Linked DNA regions of Homo sapiens: regions 2, 3 and 4 are each linked to region 1. The links come from fine-mapping of genetic effects on gene expression. A gene starts in region 1. Each other region holds a variant in brackets. All regions are shown on one strand. Distances are from middle to middle.

The links. PIP is the estimated chance that this variant, and not a neighbour inherited with it, causes the effect.
Region 2: its variant is fine-mapped to the expression of GPR135 in tibial artery (GTEx, PIP 0.95).
Region 3: its variant is fine-mapped to the expression of GPR135 in blood mononuclear cells (TOPMed, PIP above 0.99).
Region 4: its variant is fine-mapped to the expression of GPR135 in T cells (TOPMed, PIP above 0.99).

What each region holds. Positions count from the first base shown.
Region 1 is chr14:59,462,987-59,468,139 of GRCh38, forward strand. It overlaps GPR135 (G protein-coupled receptor 135), which reads right to left and starts at 2,394. Exons shown (of 1, transcript NM_022571.6): 1 at 1-2,394. The coding sequence starts at 2,240. The coding sequence ends at 756. It also overlaps a transcript of L3HYPDH not described here. RefSeq lists a silencer at 1,925-2,464.
Region 2 is chr14:59,677,853-59,683,005 of GRCh38, forward strand. The region is part of intron 3 of RTN1 (reticulon 1); the gene reads right to left. Among named protein-coding and RNA genes, the nearest start is that of MIR5586, 33 kb to the left of the region's middle. The variant A/G (reference allele first, on the strand shown) is at 2,322.
Region 3 is chr14:59,441,809-59,446,961 of GRCh38, forward strand. No RefSeq gene overlaps it. Among named protein-coding and RNA genes, the nearest start is that of GPR135, 21 kb to the right of the region's middle. The variant A/G (reference allele first, on the strand shown) is at 2,928.
Region 4 is chr14:59,511,736-59,516,888 of GRCh38, forward strand. CCDC175 (coiled-coil domain containing 175) reads right to left here. Exons shown (of 20, transcript NM_001164399.2): 18 at 25-68. Among named protein-coding and RNA genes, the nearest start is that of JKAMP, 30 kb to the left of the region's middle. The variant G/A (reference allele first, on the strand shown) is at 2,298.

The DNA.
Region 1 (5,153 bases):
TTCAAAGTTTTCCAAGGAAGATCATTTTGGAGGTATGACGCGGGTGGAAGGAATGTTAATTTTTACATATAATCTTGGAAAACATTTAAAAGACACATTTCTTTATGTTCATACTTCTATTTGTCCTTCAGATGGTTGAATTTTATCTAATAATAACCAGCTTTTCAAAATCCTAAAATGATTTTAAATGGGTTATGAATTAAAAATTTTCCACAAAGGTTATTAGGGGGTGGGGTGAGGAGGTGCACCAATGTGTGTAAGGATAAGACTTTTCCACTTGCAATCTAAGCACCCAAAGCATGTCAGAGGTGCAAGCTCTAGAAGCTAAAGTTTTGTTGGATGGTAGCGATTTAGAGGGGCTTTCAAGCAGCTCTGAAGGTCTCCATTCATTCCTGAAATTCTGTGTAGTTGAACAATACTGGTTGCATTCAATGTTTTGTTTGTTTCACAGTGTGGTCCTATAATATGAGCTTTTCAGTTATAGTGAATGTTATTTTTGTCATTTTTGGCACTTACAGTTCACAATGCTTGGTTATGTGGTTTAAGATTGTTTTAATTTTTGCATTTTACATTCCTTTTGGCACTTTTGAAGAAGGGACATTGTCTTTTATGTTGTTTGGGGAAAGTGGTAAGCCTCCCCCGTCTCTAGCTTTAAATGTTTGGCTTTATGAAATCCACAACTCTCCCCCAGAATCTTCCATCATTAAATAATGCGAGTGGAAATTTGCCTTCATAAGCTGGCCATTCCAACCGTCTTAGAGGCTGGTATCCCCAGCTTCGGATTTAGGCTGTTTGGTCACTGCCGTCACCGGCTCTGGTGGTCCCTCTCGGCAGAAAAGTACAACTGGATTTTTGCGGGCCCACATGGCCACGTCCCCTGCCACTCCGCTGGCCGGGTTGGAAGAGGACATCCTGTTGCAGGCCCCCAGCCGGTTGGCATAGCGGTTTCGAAGGCGACTGCGGCTTCTGGCTTGCAGACCCGGGCCCTGGCTGGGCAGGAAAGCGTCCACATTCCTAGTCCGGTAGCCCTCCTCGCGGTTGCGCCCTAGGAGCATCGAAATGTTGGGATTGCGGATGGCGTAGATGACAGGGTTGATGGCCCCATTGGCCCAGGTCAGCCAGACGGCCACCACGCTGAGGAGCGAGGGGGCCTGCATGGTCTGGGCCTGCCGGGCGGCGGCCAGCAGCACCAGGAAGCAGTAGGGCCCCCAGCAGCAGATGACGAAGACGATCATGATGAGGACGGTGGTGGCCGTGCGCACCTCGCTGAAGAAGCGCAGCACGCGCGCGTAGGTGTTCACCGGCCGCACGCGCACGTCCGACAGGCGCACCGTCTTGCAGATGTGGTAGTGGCAGAAGCACATGAGCAGGAAGGGCAGCAGGTAGCAGGCCACCACCAGCCCCACGCTGAAGGCCGCGCCCAGCTGCGCGGGGTCCGGGGAGGTCCGGTAGAGGCAGCCGTGGAAGCTCTGCGCCGCCGCGAGTTCCCGGGGCGCCCCGAGCAGCTCCCAGGGCAAGGAGAAGCCCAGGGCCGTCAGCCAGGCGCCCGCCAGCAGCTGCAGCGCGCGGCGGCGGCCGATCTTCTCCCGCGGCGGCCGCACGATAGCGCAGTAACGGTCCAACGAGATGAGCGCCACGCTGAGCGTGGACACGATGCCGAAGCACGAGCTGAAGAAGCGGCTGGCGGCGCAGAAGCCGCGCCAGGGCCCCGCGGCGGCGGCAGGCGCCGAACCCCCGGGCGGAGTGAAGAGGTCCAGGAAGGCGGCGGGCAGGCAGAGCAGCGCCGTGAGCAGATCCGATAGGGACAGCGACAGGATGAAGGCGTTGGTGACGGTGCGGAGCTGCCGGTGCTTCACAATCACCCCCATCACCGCGCAGTTGCCAAGGCTAGACAGCAGGAAGATGAGCAGGAGGACGAGCGCCTGGGCCGCCACTGCAGCTCCGTGCGACAGCAGCGGCGCCGCCTCCGGGCCTAGCGGCCGCCTCACCGCCGCCCCCGCCTCCCGCGCTGCCCCGGACCCGCCAAGGCCGCCGCCACCGGGAGCGGCAGCTGTGCCGCCTCCGCTTGCGTCGCTCAGGTTCCCCAGCGCCGCGGTCGCCACGGTGCTGAAGGAGAGCACGGCCGCCGTGGCCGCGGAGGAAGTCCCGCCAGGTGGGCCGGCCGCGGAGGGGGCGCCGGAGTGCTGGCTGCCCAGTAAGGCCATGCTCGCTGGTGGGCGGGGCGGCTGCGGCTCCTCCATGGGGCCCAGTGGCGGCCGCGGATCTCCTCATCCCGCACCGGGGGCGGCGGCCGCTAGGTCGGAGTGGTGGCTCGGGGCCGGGGGCTAGCGGCCGCCGCGGGGAGCTGGGCTCGGCCGGAGGGGTGGCGGTCGCTGGGGACCTGGCGGAGCCTTTGACGTGGGTTCCAGCGTTGCCGAGGGAACCGCGTGTTTACGCAGGAGCGCGGGGCGGGACGGCAGCCCAGTACCCGCTGCAAAGCCGACCCGCGACACCGCCACTCCGGAGGTTACCGGCCCGGGTGTTCGGGTTTCCGAGAGTGCCAGGTCGACCTCCTGAGGGACCAATGTCCGGCCAGATAAAGTGCCGACTGGCATGCAAACAAATGACCAGATTCAACGAAAGTTCACTCTTGCTCTCTTTTGTAGGGTACAAATGTTCTACAGGCAGGCCTTTTGGGGAGTGGTGGGGGGGGCACTCTGCTTCCTGTGGGTGCTTTTGGTATATACAGGTAGGAAAGGAATCTAGAAAGTGAAGTGAAAGAAAAATCCAGAAGTCTACATCCAGACATCTTAAACTTGAGAAGCAGACTAATTTAAACCAGTAATTCTCAAACTTGAGCTAACAGAATTCACATAGAGGGCGTGTTAAAATACAAGTGACGAGGTCTGAACCCCAGCGTTTCGAATATGTCTGGGGAAGTACCCAAGAATTTGTATCTCTAACGGGTTCGCGGGTGGTGATGATGATGCTGGTCCCAGGACCACACTTACAGAAGCACTGATGTCAAGAGTTTCATAAAATGCAGATTCCCAGGCTGACAGAATTACTAAGGATGGGCCCATGACTCTAAACCCCGTAGGTGATTCTGATACAGGTGCTCTGAGGAGCTAGGATAGTTCCTTTAGATGTTACTTCATTTCCAAGGGCCTGGACCTCAGGCCCCTACTGGCTGATAAATGGGGGGAGAGGGATTGGTGCCTTGCCCTGCTAGCAGCCTTCATCTGTTCTCAGGAATGGGGTATGTTTTGAGTCTAAGGTGCTGCCAGCCTGGCAATCACCACAGATGCAGCTCCAGGTACCTGGCTGGGAGATACGGGGAAAAGAAAGGCAGGGCTACCCAGGGAAGTTGCATCTCAAGTTTCTGGGCATGGCCTCTAATGGGGAAAAGTGTGATAAACCCTCAGGTTAACTAACCCTGGGCTCTTCGCTAAAGCAGTGGTTCACAGAGTATGGACATTGGACCAGCAGCATCAACATCCCCTGGAAACCTTGAGAAATACAAATTATCAGGCCTACAGTGCATAGGATACCCCTGATCTACTGAAACTCCTGTGGTGGGGCCCAGGCACCTATGTTTTAACAAGCCCTCCCAGTGATTCTGATGCACAAATTTGAGAAACACTGCTCTAAAGAATGACTAGTATATTTGTAGATCTTAGAATCAATGGTATTAGTATTGGAGTGCTTATTTCATTCAGAAAAAATATCCTACAGGAAATTTACAGTATAAATAGAAGAACGTTTAAGGTGGCAAACCAAAACTGGGTTTGTCAGCCTAAGCGTCATGGACTTTTGGGCCAGATAATTCTTTATTGCAGGGGCCATCTATACATTGTATGATGTTCAGCAGCATCCCTAGTTCCTACCTACGAGATGCCAGTAGCACCTCTCCCAGCTGTGACAACTAAAACTGTCTTCAGATATTGCCAAATATCCTCTTGGGAGCAGTCAATGCCAGCTTAATCTAGACTGATTTTGTCTTAATTTTGTCAATCAAAGCAAAAATATAATTATCATACATTAATTTATTTGGCAAACACAATCTTCTCAGATTGTGCTTAGTTTTAGGAAACAACATATAAGATAGGAAACCCAGCCCAAATAAGCTTAAGCCACCGGCCAACACAGTATATTACAGTGTGCTAAATATTGTCTTAAAAATATGTGAGTGAAATTATTTGTCTTCCTGACAAAGACTTTGTACAAGAGGTGACATTAGACTTTTTAAAAAAAGAAGAAAGGGAAAGAACATTTGATGAATGTGCAAAGTCTGGAGGTTAGTGTTGAAGTGAGCAGTGTCTGAATTCTAGGATATTGGAGATGGGGAGTGAAGAAGGAAATAAATGATCAAAGTTTATTGGGGCTACCTTATGATGGGCCTTGTAGGCCATGCTCTGGAGACTGAACTTCATCAGGGGAGGAGGGGCTAATAGCATAAGGGAGGGCCGTGAGCAAGTGCATGGTTCAGAAGGACCAGAAGGACTGCACTCTTCTGCTTCCTTCCTTCCTCATCTTTCTCAGTGTCCTCTCCTCTGCCAGTTCATCCTCTTCCACCTGCCTTTACATGCTGGAGTTCATCAAAGCCCTGTTCTCAGCTCCTCTGGACTCCCCCCTCGGCCCCATCTCACTCACATCCAGGACTTCAAAGATAATCTATATATTCATTACTCAAATTATGTCTGTGGCCCCAACCTACATGTCCTGCTACTTGGCATCTCTCTCCTTGATGTGCCAGTGGCACATCAAATGGGTGCATGATCTTCTTCCTACTTCCCCGGTAAAACTTGGTCTTCAATACTCTGTATCTCAGAATATGGTAGAACCATCCTTCTAGCTTTTAAGCCAAAAACTTAAGAGTTTTCCTTGATGAATCCCTCCTCCTTACCACCAGTCCACATCCAATTCATCAACCAAGACCTATGGATTTTAGTTGCGGACTATCTTTGCATCCATTCATCTCCTCCATCCTGAATCTTGGCTCTCATCCTCTCTTTGGACTACTGTTGTCACTGTTGTCCTAACCGGTCTTCCCACATCCAGTTCCTACATTGTAGGCAGCTAGGCATAATGCTCTTAAAAAAATTCTTCATGCCACTTACTTATTTAAACTCTTCTAATTAGGCCAGTGTAGTGGCATGTGCCTGTAGTCCCAG
Region 2 (5,153 bases), 210 kb after region 1:
AGGCAGTAATGTGGATTTTAGCTTTGCAAGGAAATTTCCTAGCAAACCACATGGCCCATTTCTGTCTCTTAATGTTAGAACAGTCCCCTAAAATAGTCTTTCTTACAAAAATAACATTCTTTTCTCACTCCCAGGATCTTGGCATCTAAATGCTATTCTAGGCATTTTAGAAAAATAAATAGTCAAAGCTATTTACAACAATGACTACCACGCTGTGGCCTGAGATGGTGAGTTTCACTTGAATTGCCAAGAAGGGAACAAGGGCGTCATATAAACCCTGGAAAACAAGCCCAGGGACAAGTCCTGTTCTGGGGTCTGGAGGATTTGGAAGGCTGCCAAAGCTTAGGCAGTGGTGGTAGGGGTGCGTGGGGAATGTGAAAAGGGGTCTTTTCTCCAAAGTTTTATTTAAGGGTTGAATGCTAATGCGAAAATGGCCTAGCTCAATCATTTTAGCTTCTCTGGCTTGGCCTTCCTAACAGCAAGAAAGAAGCCATCAATGAGCTACAAAACTTCATTTTTCCTACAGGCTGGAAGTGGTCTCTTTTTAATATATGTTCTGGATTCCACTGTCTGAGAGAAGAAAATTGATTTAAACATTTAGGTATCTACAGACAACTCTTACTGACTCAGGGGCCAGCGCACTCAGATTGCAGATTGCAGCATCCCTGTTTCTCTACCTTGTGCCTCATCCTTTGTGAATTCTGAAAGCTGGTTGCTTTTTCCCACATACTGAGGTCCAGCGTGGGCCACAGCACATGTTGGGACCTCAAGAGCTGAAGGTTCCTTGCTGGGCTCCCAGGCACAGAGGTACAGGCCTCCCTTCTCACTACTGCCCCTTCCTCAACCTCCACTGTCCCCATTGTCCTTAGGCTCACTGGTGTGGAAGAGACTTTAACAGACTGACATGCTGATCTTCAGGTTTCTCAAAGCGTGACCACAGACCACCTGCTTCAGAAGCACTGGGGGAGTTGGTTAAAAATGCAGCTTCCTGGGCCTCACCCCAGGCTTACTTAGTCAGAATGGGAAGCTGAGAATGTACATTTTTAACAGGCTATCCAGGTAATTCTTATGCACATATAAGTTTAAGGACCATAGATACAGGTGCAGGGTCTTAGTATCTAACTCTGTTGGGTTCTTGAGTTCAACTGTGATTTCAAAAAGCAAGGGATAGCATCTGAATCCTCTTGGCTCCTGGCAGAGTGACAGATTGGATTGTGAGGGATGACAGTGTCTGGAAAAGACTGGGAACAGGTAGGAATCTACTAGAAAAAGGCCAAGATAATCCCTAACTTGACATTTTGTATTGAGTATTATCATGTGTAATTGTTAGGGTGGCTTGGGTATGAATTAGAGAAGTATTCTCAATTTCCCTCTTAAGCATCAGAAGTTGCACAGGTGCTCTGAAATGAAACAATAGTACAGCCCTCTCTGCTAAATTGAGTTATCTATTAAACAAACAGAGCCACCAATGATAACCCATACACCCTTTGACTTAGGTTTCATCTTTACCATTGTATCAATGTTTGTAAAATAAGGCTAGAGACTGGAGCTCTAACTTTTCTCAATCCAGACTCTACCTCTCTCCAGCTAAGACCATGAGGTCTTTATTTCTTCTCTATGCCTTAATTTCCCCAACTGTGGGATGAATCTGCTTATAGTACTAGTCATAGGTACCTTTTAATGGTTATTAAAAAGGGTTGAACAGTAAAACAGCAGAGTACAAAACAGGTGTTATATTAGTAATCACTCTTAATAATTTCATTGTTAATCATTGTCACTGCAAAAATTAACAGTGACCTGACCTATGAGAAGAAGCTGAACTGTTTAGCTCAAATGAAGTCTGGGGATGACTTCTGGATTTAAGTTATTCACACTCAACCTATCACTTATTGCCACAGACACTTCAAAGTTCACAGTTCTCTGAAATATCATAATTTTCCAGAGCTTCCATACAGACTTGCATATAATTTTCCAGAGCTTCCATACAGAACAATTTGAACCTTGCAAATTGTTCTCATTTTATCTTAGGTCTAACAGGTTGGGGGTTGGGGTTTGTTTTTCTTTTTTAAAAAAATAGAACTTCTTAAAAACCAGGTCAGACTTATCAACAGAATCTAAATAAGGCTTGGTGTGTTGTGCAACCTCTACAACATAGCAACAATGAAATTTCACTGCAACTACTGCCCTCATACCCAATAGCATTTACAATACCTCTGACAAAGTGTGTCTATTTCCATGGTACCTGTTGCCATGGGAGCTGAGCAGTGCTCCTCCTAGAACAATCATGTTAGTAACATAGCTCTTAGCTATTGCCTTCTAAG[A/G]GCTTTGCTCTGGGGAAAAAATGGGATACTTTGTTTTTGAAAGAAGTCATAAACCTCCTCCAAAATAGACAATTGTTGCTTAATAGTACTAAAAAGGAAAGAGCAATCCCTCTTTCCCTCCATACCAGTTAGAGAAGCATTTCTTTCCTTCTGGAGAAGTATTTCCAAGTGAAACCATGCAAAATATAGGGAAGTGTGTTTTGAATTCCATTTTAAAGTTATTTTGCATAAAAGTTAAATAAAAAAGGAGATAGTTGTCATTGTTTACAATAAGTCTATCTTTACTAATTTGAGCTAATCAGTGAATTCACTGAATAAAATACAAGGTTAGTGCCAATTACCAATTTCCCAATGAACCCAAATACAAGGCTTTATAGCATGCTGTATTATTTAGTGTGTCCAGGCATTGCCACATAAAGCTGATGGAAGTATACATTTGTATCATCTTTCTAAAACACAATTTGGCAATAGGAGCCTTAAAATGTTCATATGTTTTAGTATGGTAATTCTATTTCCAGAAATCTATCTCAAGAAAATAATTTGAAATGAACACAAAGCCTTATAAACAAAGATACTCAATGGAGTGGTATTTAAAGTTTTTTAAAGCTAAAATCTAAATGTTGAACAATAGAGAATGTGTAACTAAGTAACTGAAAAGTGATAGGCATCTTTATGCTGTCATGAAAAACCATATTTATGAAGAGTTTTTAATAACTTGGGAAAATGTTTATCATATCAAGTTAAAAAAAGAAGTATATGAATTTATACAGCCAACATAACAAGTATACAAAAATATGTACAGACATAATAATAGAATATATGTTGAAATTTTGACAGTGGTGGTTGAATTATGGATTACAGTTATTTTGTCTTTTATAAGTTTCTATATTAATAGTATGTGTGTGTCTATCTCTATTTCCCATTTTCTCTTTTTTCTCTGCTTCTCTTTTCATCTAAGTGCTCATAAAACTACAAATCTATTTTATTATTTCCATATTTATTAAATACATCTTAGATTTCCACATGTACAAATCCAACAAAAACTTACCAAGCATTATTTGCTATGAACAATTCTTAATTTAGACATATGAACATATATTTCCTCTAACAAAAACAAGTCAGTTACTTTGCTTTTAATTTACTTGGTTCTTGATTCATATGTTTTATTCCATGAGTAACTGTCTCTCAATAGAAAATCATTCTGAATCTTAAAAAATGGTAATTTGAAAATGCCAAAATGTTCTCCATACTATTTTTTCAACCCTTTTTTCTAGCTCCAATAATGATTATCAATGATGAGTGTCATATCAATTCCATCCCCAAACCACACACTGCAGTAGGCACTGGGAAATAATGAATCTGGGTCACTAATACTCTGTATTCTCCACTGGGCTCTCTCACTCATGCTCATAGTTACCACCAGACATGGGTACCACCAGCTCTGAATCTCCAGCCTGGACCTAGCTCTTGAGTTCCAGGTTCAGGTCACTAACTGCTTACTAAATAAATCTTCCTGAATGTCTCCTAGGCATCTATGAACTCATTTTCCCTGTATCACCTTCTCAGATCGTGTTCCACTAAGCAGCCTTCTTTTTCATCCAGCTAATCACATCAGAACACAAGGATCATCCCAGATTCCTGTTTCTGTCTCACTGTTCCCTTCCCCTACCCTCAAACCTTGATTTCTACTTTCCAAATCTCTCCCAAATTCATCCTCTCAGCTGCTACAGCTTTAGTTTATAGTTTAGACCCTCGTCACTGCTCACTAGATTTTTTTAGTGATCTTCTAACTATCCTTTTGGTTACCAATCTGTCCTTCTCATGGAGAAATCTTTCTAAACATAAATCTGATCATGGTGCTACCCTTTAAGAAGCTAGAAGATCCAGCATGTGCTTTTTAATGTGGCTCCTTCCCATCTCCCCATCTTCATCTCCCATGGCTTTGCCACTGACATACTTTCCAGAAAAATGGAATTATCCTAATTCCCTGAAATCACATGCTATTTCACCCTTTGAGGACTTTACACACATTCTTTTCTTCAACTGAAATTCTCTCACCTGCTCCATATTTCAAGACTTAGCTCAAGGTTCAACTCCATTTGTCTTCCTTTCCTTATGGCATTACTATTTCTGGTACATCTTCTCATGATTATTTTATTTATTTGAACAAGATTTATTACACATCCAATGTTATACCATGCATTGTGCTGGCTGCTGGGTAGATAGACTACTTCTGCCCCCACAGAAGGATTCCACTTGCCTTTCCTGCTGTTGAAGTTTATACCTATGTCTCCTTTGAATTGCTAGAGGGCAGGAACTGACTCATGGTCATCTTTGTATCTCCCAGCTTCTGGCGAAAGTAGATGCCTAATAAATGTGTATTGAACAAATGGAAACAAACACAAGTGTTTCTGTTTACATTAACACAACAATAAAACTTAACAAGTATAAAAGTTACTCATAATTGCCAATGAGTAATGTTTCACACTTCATAAAACAGAAACAATTGTCTCTAGGGAACAAAATCAAATGTATACTTACAGAGCACATGGTTAAGCATTGCTAAAAAAGGCTTTGAGAATATGATTTGATAATTTATGAGTTTCCTCATAATTCTATGATTAAAGTGACTAATCATAGGGAATATAGTTAGTCCCACTGAACTCCACTCCAGAAACTGTGGTTCCTAATACGCATGCACTAATTTGCCTAATAGAAATCTTACTTATGAGGTTATTCAGCATTTAAGAGTGCAGGCAAAAGAAAGGAGAAGCAATTTGATTTGTACCTAGGGGAGTGACATTTTGGTTCTCGGTTAATATTTAAAAGTCA
Region 3 (5,153 bases), 21 kb before region 1:
CAATAGCAAACAACTTCTCTCTCTCCTTCTTCCTTTCTTTTGTAAATTTTCTTTATCTTCTTCTCTCCCTCCTTAGCCCCCTCTTCTTCCTTCCCTCTCCTTATCTCTCTTTAGTCTCCTCTCTGTTCTTCCCTCCCTTCTGTTCTCCTTTCAAAGTAGATCACAGAAAGATGTTTAGGAGACATTCATTAGAGAATGTTCAGTAGCACAAAGACAGCAGAAAATGTATACAGTATCACATTTTCCATCCTTTCTTTTCTTTTTTAACTAAATCTTGAAATTCTGAAGTTATGTGACTTTGTATGTTTTAAAGGGGTGTTGTCGTGTTGCATGGGTGTCTTGTGTAACTAAAACAAACTCTCCACCCTGCCCTTGTCTTATTGTGCAGTTTCTTTCTTTTCATTTTTATTTTATTTACTTATTTTTTTGAGGCAGGGTCTCATCTCACTCTATTGCCCAGGCTGGAGTACAGTGGCATGATCTCGGCTCACTGCAGTCTCACCCTCCCTGGGCTCAAGCAATCCTCCCATCTCAGCCTCCTGAGTAGCTGGGACTACAGGCACACAACACCACACCCAACTTTTTTTTTTTTTTTTTCCATAGAGATGGGGTTTCACCATGTTGCCCAGGCTGGTCTTGAACTCCTGGACTCAAGCCATCTACTCACCTTGGCCTCCCGAAGTGCTGGGATTATGAGCATGTACCACCACACCCATCCCACAGTTTCTAAGAGAATCTGACCTTTTTCAGTTTCCAGAGACAGTCTTTGTGATTAATGATCTATCTGTGTTAGTCTAAGACTCCAAGACCAATCTCCCATTTCCAAAGACAGAACTGGGAGAAACTTCCCTTTCCTCTAAAGAGGTGATTCTGTATGTAAGCTAAGAGTAATCAAAGCAAGTTAGAATGCAATCTCCTTATATCCTTGTGAGAAGGATGGGAGAGGCTCCCCACACATGAAGGTAAACAAGAGGTTGCAGATTTTCACCATCGTTGACAGGGTGGGTGGTGTGCTGGCAGAGGGGAAGCAGTAGAGTTATTCAGGCTGAATGGACATCACTAAGGGAACCAGGTTCTTTCAGGTGCACAGGGGAAATCAGCAAGTTTCAGTGAATTCATGACAACTTGCCTCAGGCTGCTATGAAAGATGGCCACAAGGTCTCCTCTATTAGTGAGGCTAGCTAGGTGCAATCCTGACCTTTATTAAGAGTAACCAGACATTCGGGAGCTGGTTGCCTAAGTGCCCAGTAATCAGTTAAAAAGATGTCACAGAAAGGCAATTTCACTCTTACATTTCAAATATAATATTGATGCTAAGATTCAAACTGACTGGAAAAACAGAGATTCATCCAGCCGCAGAGGGCCTGATAGGGATAAAGGAGGCATGCTAAGGGATATAAATTACTACTTCTGTGAACTCCCAGAAAAGATTCTACCCTTGTTAATTTCATCCTGCCTCCTCCTCACTCTCAGATCCCCAAACCTCCACCCTTGTCTGCCTCTCTTCCCATCCATCCCTGCTGTGGGTTCTAATCCCAATCCTGCTGTTGTTTAGCTGGCTATATTATCTTGAACAAGTTATTTTTCTTTGAGTCTCAGCTTCTTCATCTATGCAATGGGGAATAGTAATATCCGGCCCATTGATATGAAATAATATGAGCAAAGGACTTCATGGAGGCAATCAATAAATGCTAGATACATCCCAAATCCCACTCTCTAAAGAATAGTCTTAGAAAACTAAAACTTTCAAATCACAAGCCTAACTCTATTTTCCAAATGTAAGAAATTTGCCTTATTTCTCAGTTGCCCTGATGCATTCCATCCATCATATAAAATAAATAATTTAAATGAAAAGTTAATTGAACGCTTAGAGCACTAAAAGTCATTCTAAGTTCTTCTTTCAGAGAATTAAAGATGCAAAAGGAAAAACTAATTTCAACATTATGCATTCAAAGAAATCTAAATTGTAACAAATTATTTATGTATATATTTAGTCTCTATTTCCTGTTCAAATACTTCAAATACATTTATAACCATTTGGAACTGTTATTACCAATATTTTAAGATGTTACACGATCCAATAGGAAATATTAACTGTTTTATTGTTAAAGAGTCATATTAAAATAATGCCATGACATATGTGTTATCAATTAGGCAATGAGCTACCAGTCAATATGTTTTGCCTTATAAAGAATTTTAGCCAAGATAAAGCTTGTTTGTTTGACTTAGAAAGCCAAAGTTGAACCTGTGTGATAACTCTTTGATCACATGTAATAACTGAAGCATAAGAAAATTGGTTTTTAGTATAATCACCAATCGTCCTCCCTTCCTCCCACTGAGAAAAAAATTCGGCCTTGTTTAAATACTCAGCTTAATTAAATTATGTATTTAATATATGATACATTTGTCTTGGCTTTGCATAGCACAAAAATGATAGATTAAATTTTTATGTGATAATTAAAGCCAAACTGTTATCAATAAGAATGTTAAAGCATTTAAAGATTATGAAAGTTTAATGTGTTCTGATGTGTTGCTTTTCAAAATCGTTGGGGCATTCCCGCTTTGAAAATTGTTGTACTTGATAATGGAGCCTCCTTGTGGGGAATCAGCAGTATTTCAGGCTTTCAAATTGCAGGTGAACTGCTGTTTGAATTTTCCCCCTTCACAACGGGAATAGATGTACTGTAGTAGTGCTATCAAGAAAATATGTACTTGTCGCCGGGTGCCGTGGCTCACGCCTGTAATCCCAGAACTTTGGGAGGCCGAGGCGGGTGGATCACGAGGTCAGAAGATCGGGACCATCCTGGCTAACACAATGAAACCCCATCTCTACTAAAAATACAAAAAATTAGCCGGGCGTGGTGGCGGGCGCCTGTAGTCCCAGCTACTGGGGGGGCTGAGGCAGGAGAATGGCGTGAACCCGGGAG[A/G]TGGAGCTTGCAGTGAGCTGAGATTGTGCCACTGCACTCCAGCCTGGGCGACAGAGTGAGACTCCGTCTCTAAATAAATAAATAAATACTAAAAAAAAAAAAAAAAAAGAAAAGAAAATATGTACTTGTCTCTGGACCCCTGACATCCAGAAACCAGCAGGAACTTAATGACTGCCAGAAAGTAAGGAAATATGTGCTGCCTTTCCTTTGGTTTGTCTGTAGTCCTGGTAGCTAAAGATAAACCAGTATTAATTTTTTTCAGTCAAATCGATTATGTTCTCTGGAGAGTAAACAAGTAGATTGACAAATTTTTTTACTTTTAAACTGCCCAATGTAGCTGGGCATGATGGTGCATGTCTGTAGTCCTAGCTACTTGGGAGGCCGAGGTGGGAAGATTGCTTGAGCCTAGGAGTTGGAGGTTACAGTGACCTATGATCCTGCACCTCACTCCAGTTTGGGTGAGAGCAAGACCCTGTCTCAAAAAACAAACCAACAATTAAACTGCCCCATGTAGTGGGGCCCTTGAACATATTGAATCAGGTAGATGCATGTTTTGCTTTAATCTCATGGAGTTATTCTCTACTTTTGACCAGAGAGCACATTCCTCTAAGAAAGATGTCAGGCCTCTGCTACGACCTCAGGTCCTCAGACCGACCAGCCCAAAAAACATCTCACCAATTTCAAATCCAGTAAGCGGCCTCTTTTTACTGTCTTCTCCAACCTCCCTCGCTATCCCTCAACCTCTTTCTTTCAATCTTGGCGCCACACTTCAATTTCTCCCTTCTCTTAATTTCAATTCCTTTCATTTTCTGGTAGAGACAAAGGAGACACGTTTTATCCGTGGACCCAAAACTCTGGCGCCAGTCACGGACTAAGGAAGGCAGCCTTCCCTTCGTGTTTAATCATTGCAGGGACACACCTCTCTGATTATTCACCCAGGTTTCAGAGGTGTCAGACCACGCAGGGACGACACCTCCCCTCCTTGCCAGGCCAAGCTAGATCCCAATTCTTCCTCAGCCTCTGCTCCTCCACCCTATAATCCTTTTATCATCTCCCCTCCTCACACCCGGTCCGGCTTACAGTTTCGTTCCGTAACTAGCCCTCCCCCTCCTGACCAGCAATTTACTCTTAAAAAGTCAGCTGGAGCCAAAGGCATAGTCAAGGTTAATGCTCCTTTTTCTTTATCCCAAATCAGATAGCGTTTAGGCTCTTTTTCATCAAATATAAAAATCCAGCCCAGTTCATGGCTCGTTTGGCATCAACCCTAAGACACTTTACAGCCCTAGACTCTAAAAGGTCAAAAGGCCGTCTTATTCTCAGTATACATTTTATTACCCAAATCTGCTCCCGACATTAAATAAAACTCCAAAAATTAAATTCTGGCCCTCAAACCCCACAACAGGACTTAATTAACCTTGCCTTCAAGGTGTACAATAATAGAGGCGGCTAAGTAGCAACATATTTCGGAGTTGCAATTCCTTGCCTCCACTGTGAGACAAACCCCAGCCACATCTCCAGCTCACAAGAACTTCCAAACGCCTAAACCACAGTGGCCAGGTGTTCCTCCAGAACCACCTCCCCCAGGAGCTTGCTACAAGTGCCAGAAATCTGGCCACCAGGCCAAGGAATGCCTGCAGTCCAGGATTCCTCCTAAGCCACGTCCCATCTGTGCAGGACCCCAATGGAAATCAGACTGTTCAACTCACCTGGCAGCCACTCCCAGAGCCCCTGGAACTCTGGCCCAAGGCTCTCTGACTCCTTCCCAGATCTTCTTGGCTTCTCTGACTCCTTCCCAGATCTTCTCGGCTTAGCGGCTGAAGACTGATGCCGCCCGATCGCCTTGGAAGCCCCGTAGACCATCACAGATGCTAGCTTTAAGTAACTCTCACAGTGGAGGGTAAGTCCGTCCCCTTCTTAATCAATATGGAGGCTACCCACTCCACATTACCTTCTTCTCAAGGGCCTGTTTCCCTTGCCTCCGTAACTGTTGTAGGTATTGACGGCCAGGCTTCTAAACCTTTAAAACTCCCCAACTCTGGTACAATTTAGACAATACTCTTTTAAGCACTCCTTTTAGTTTTCCCCACCTGCCCAGTTCCCTTATTAGGCTGAGACACTTTAACTAAATTATCTGCTTCCCTGACTATTCCTGGACTACAGCCGCATCTCATTGACGCCCTTCTTCCCAATCCAAAGCCTCCTTTGCATCCTCCTCTTGTATCCCCC
Region 4 (5,153 bases), 49 kb after region 1:
GCAACAGACACACGCAAAACTCACCTTAACTGTGGTCTGAAATTCAGCCCACAAATCCTTATATTGTGCTAAAATAAAGATTTAAAAAATACAATGGTTACTGACACAATCTGAACATTTTAATAAAAGTCGTGTTATTCATTTTTGTTTTTTCAAAAATTATTTTTATCTAAAAATGTCTAGTTCCAAAATGACAGAATAACTGAATTGGACCTGCCCTCCCACTGCAAACAAATAGAAGAAAGAAGCAAAACATATGAAAGAAATGTTTTCAGATGTTGAAGAATGGGCAGCCCAGGACTGTGACACCTGGAAGAGAAACAAAGGAGGTGGGTCCTGCAATCACCCAGCTTTCCACTGGGGGGCACTTTCCAGACCACAGCACTGGCACAGCAGGGTGGTCTTAACACAGACACAAAAAGATTAGCAAACTGAATCCAGCAATAGACAAGAACAATAAAAGCTTTTGAACAAGTGGGCTTTATGCTAAGAATGGGAGCTTGGTTTAAAAGTCAGACTCAATCAGTGCAACTTACCACACGAACAGCATAAAGGAGTAATACTAGCTGAGCATCTCAGTGGCTGTCTGAGCAGCTGAGGCCAGTCACAAAGGCACTCTGTGCCCGCATGACTGACCATCTTCCCGCCCCATAAGTACTCTGGACACTCAAGCCTGGGTGAGCCTCCCTGGTTGGCAACACTTTGTATGTGGAGTCACACGTTGTTGGGGAAATTAAGTGCATCCCTGAGAAGGTTGCTCCAGATTTCCTTCATACTTTGCCCTCTGTGCCTTTTCCCTTTGCTGATTTTACTCTATCTTTCACTGGAATAACAATAACCATAACAATTTTTGAGTCCTGTGAATCATTTTAGCTAATCATTAAGCCTAAGGGTAGTCCTGGGATACCTGATACTACACTACAGCTGCACAATTTTTTTGAGATAAAGACCTAAATAAATGGAGATAAATACTATATTCTTGGATTAGAAAATATAATTTCATTAAAAAGTCTATTCTTCCAACATTGACTTATAGATTCAACACAAACCCAATTAAGATCTCAGCAGGGGTGTGTGTGTGTGTGTGTGTGTGTGTGTGTGTGTGTGTGTGTAGATTAGGTGATTCTAAAATGTATATGGAAATCAAAGAATTTAGAATAGTGAAAATAATTTTAAAAGACAAGCATACAGGTGAAGAATTCTATTACCTGATGTTCAGACTGCATGTGAAGCTATAGTAATTAAGACAGTGTGATATTGGTATAAAGTTAGGCATTTAGAATAAAGGAACAACCACATAAAATTGATTTTTGAAAAGTTGCTAGGGTAATACAATGGCAAAAGCATAGTCTTTTCAAAAATAGTACTGGAACAACTGGATGTGTGTAAGAGAAAACAATGAAATTCAAGCATTGCTTCACATCATATAAAAAAGTTCACTTGAGGGGGGTGGAGCCAAGATGGCCGAATAGGAACAGCTCCAGTCTACAGCTCCCAACGTCAGCGACGCAGAAGACGGGTGATTTCTGCATTTCCAACTGAGGTACTGGGTTCATCTCACTGGGGAGTGTCAGAAAGTGGGTGCAGGACAGTGGGTGCAGTGCACCGAGTGTGAGCCAAAGCAGGGGGAGGCACTGCCTCACCTGGGAAGTGGAAGGGGTCAGGGAATTCCCTTTCCTAGTCAAAGAAAGGGGTGATGGATGGCACCTGGAAAATCAAGTCACTCCCACCCCAATATGGTGCTTTTCCAACTGTCTTAGCAAACGGCACAGCAAGAGATTATATCCCGTGCCTGGCTTGGAGGGTCCTATGCCCACGGAGCCTCACTCATTGCTAGCACAGCAGTCTGAGATCAAACTGCAAGGCAGCAGCGAGGCTGGGGGAGGGGTGCCTGCCATTGCTGAGGCTTGACTAGGTAAACAAAGCAGCCTGGAAGCTCAAACTGGGTAGAGCCCACCGCAGCTCAAGGAGGCCTGCCTGCCTCTGTAGACTCCACCTCTGGGGGCAGGGCATTGCCAAACAAAAGGCAGCAGAATCCTCTGCAGATTTAAATGTCCCTGTCTGACAGCTTTGAAGAGAGTAGAGGTTCTCCTAGCACGCAGCTGGAGATCTGAGAATGGACAGACTGCCTCCTCAAGCACGTCCTTGACCCCCGAGTAGCGTAACTGGGAGGCACCTCCTAGTAGGGGCAGACTGACACCTCACATGGCCGGGTACTCCTCTGAGACAAAACTTCCAGAGGCATGATCAGGCAGCAACATTTGATGTTCACCAATATCCGCTGTTCTGCAGCCTCC[G/A]CTGCTGATACCCAGGCAAACGGGGTCTGGAGTGGACCTCCAGCAAACTCCAACAGACCTGCAGCTGAAGGTCCTGACTGTTAGAAGGAAAACTAAAAAACAGAAAGGACATCCACACCAAAACCCCATCTGTACGTCACCATCATCAAAGACCAAAGGTAGATAAAACCACAAAGATGGGGAAAAAACAGAGCAGAAAAACTGGAAATTCTAAAAATCAGAGTGCCTCTCTTCCTCCAAAGGAACGCAGCTCCTCACCAGCAATGGAACAAAGTTGGACAGAGAATGACTTTGATGAGTTGAGAGAAGAAGGCTTCAGACGATCAAACTACTCAGAGCTAAAGGTGGAAGTTCAAACCCATGTCAAAGAAGTTAAAAACCTTGAAAAAAAATTAGACGAATGGCTAACTAGAATAACCAATGCGGAGAAGTCCTTAAAGGACCTGATGGAGCTGAAAAACAAGGCACGAGAACTACATGACAAATGCATAAGCCTCAGTAGCCGATTAGATCAACTGGAAGAAAGGCTATCAGTGATGGAAGATCAAATGAATGAAATGAAGCGAGAAGAGAAGTTTAGAGAAAAAAGAATAAAAAGAAATGAACAAAGCCTCCAAGAAATATGGGAGTATGTGAAAAGACCAAATCTACGTCTGATTGGTGTACCTGAAAGTGACAGGGAGAATGGAACCAAGTTGGAAAACACTCTGCAGGATATCATACAGGAGAACTTCCCCAATCTAGCAAGGCAGGCCAACATTCAAATTCAGGAAATACAGAGAATGCCACAAAGATACTCCTCCAGAAGAGCAACTCCAAGACACATAATTGTCAGATTCACCAAAGTTGAAATGAAGGAAAAAATGTTAAGGGCAGCCAGAGAGAAAGGTCGGGTTACCCACAAAGGGAAGCCCAGCAGACTAACAGCTGACCTCTCAGCAGAAACACTACAAGCCAGAAGAGAGTGGGGGCCAATATTCAACATTCTTAAAGAAAAGAATTTTCAACCCAGAATTTAATATCCAGCCAAACTAAGCTTCATAAATGAAGGAGAAATAAAATCCTTTATAGACAAGCAAATGATGAGAGATTTTGTCACCACCAGGCCTGCCCTACAAGAGCTCCTGAAGGAAGCACTAAACATGGAAAGGAACAACTGGTACCAGCCACTGAAAAAGCATGCCAAATTGTAAAGACCATTGAGGCTAGGAAGAAACTGCATCCACTAACAAGCAAAATAACCAGCTAACATCATAATGGCAGGATCAAATTCACACATAACAATATTAGCCTTAAATGTAAATGGGCTAAATGCTCCAATTAAAAGACACAGACTGGCAAATTGGATAAAGAGTTAAGACCCATCAGTGTGCTGTATTCAGGAGACCCATCTCACATGCAGAGACACATATAGGCTCAAAATAAAGGGATGGAGGAAGATCTACCAAACAAATGGAAAACAAAAAAAGGCAGGGGTTGCAATCCTAGTCTCTCATAAAACAGACTTTAAACCAACAAAGATCAAAAGAGACAAAGAAGGCCATTACATAATGGTAAAGGGATCAATTCAACAAGAAGAGCTAACTATCCTAAATATATATGCACCCAATACAGGAGCACCCAGATTCATAAAGCAAGTCCTTAGAGACCTGGAAAGAGACTTAGACTCCCACACAATAATAATGGGATACTTTAACACCCCACTGTCAACATTAGACAGATCAATGAGACAGAAAGTTAGCAAGAATATCCAGGAATTGAACTCAGCTCTGCACCAAGCAGACCTAACAGACATCTACAGAATTCTCCACGCCAAATCAACAGAATATACATTCTTCTCAGCACCACACCGCACTTATTCCAAAATTGACCACATAGTTGGAACTAAAGCACTCCTCAGCAAATGTAAAAGAACAGAAATTATAACAAACTGTCTCTCAGAACACAGTGCAATCAAACTAGAACTCAGGATTAAGAAACTCACTCAAAATCGCTCAACTACTTGGAAACTGAACAACCTGCTCCTGAATGACTACTGGGTACATAACGAAATGAAGGCAGAAATAAAGATGTTCTTTGAAACCAATGAGAACAAAGACACGACATACCAGAATCTCTGGGACACATTCAAAGCAGTATGTAGAGGGAAAATTATAGCACTAAATGCCCACAAGAGAAAGCAGGAAAGATCTAAAATTGACACCCTAACATCACAATTAAAAGAACTAGAGAAGCAAGAGCAAACACATTCAAAAGCTAGCAGAAGGTGAGAAATAACTAAGATCAGAGCAGAACTGAAGGAAATAGAGACTCAAAAAAACCTTCAAAAAAATCAATGAATCCAGGAGCTGGTTTTTTGAAAAGATCAACAAAATCGATAGATTGCTAGCAAGGCTAATAAAGAAGAAAAGAGAGAAGAATCAAATAGACGCAATAAAAAATGATAACTGGGATATCACCACCGATCCCACAGAAATACAAACTACCATCAGAGAATACTATAAACATCTCTATGCAAATAAGCTAGAAAATCTAGAATAAATGGATAAATTCCTCGACACATACACCCTCCGAAGACTAAACCAGGAAGAAGTTGAATCTCTGAATAGACCAATAACAGGCTCTGAAATTGAAGCAATAATTAATAGCTTACCAACCAAAAAAAGTCCAGGACCAGATGGATTCCCAGCCGAATTCTACCAGAGGTACAAGGAGGAGCTGGTACCATTCCTTCTGAAACTATTCCAATCAATAGAAAAAGAGGGAATCCTCCCTAACTCATTTTATGAGGCCAGCATCATCCTGATACCAAAGCCTAGCAGAGACACAACAAAAAAAGAGAATTTTAGACCAATA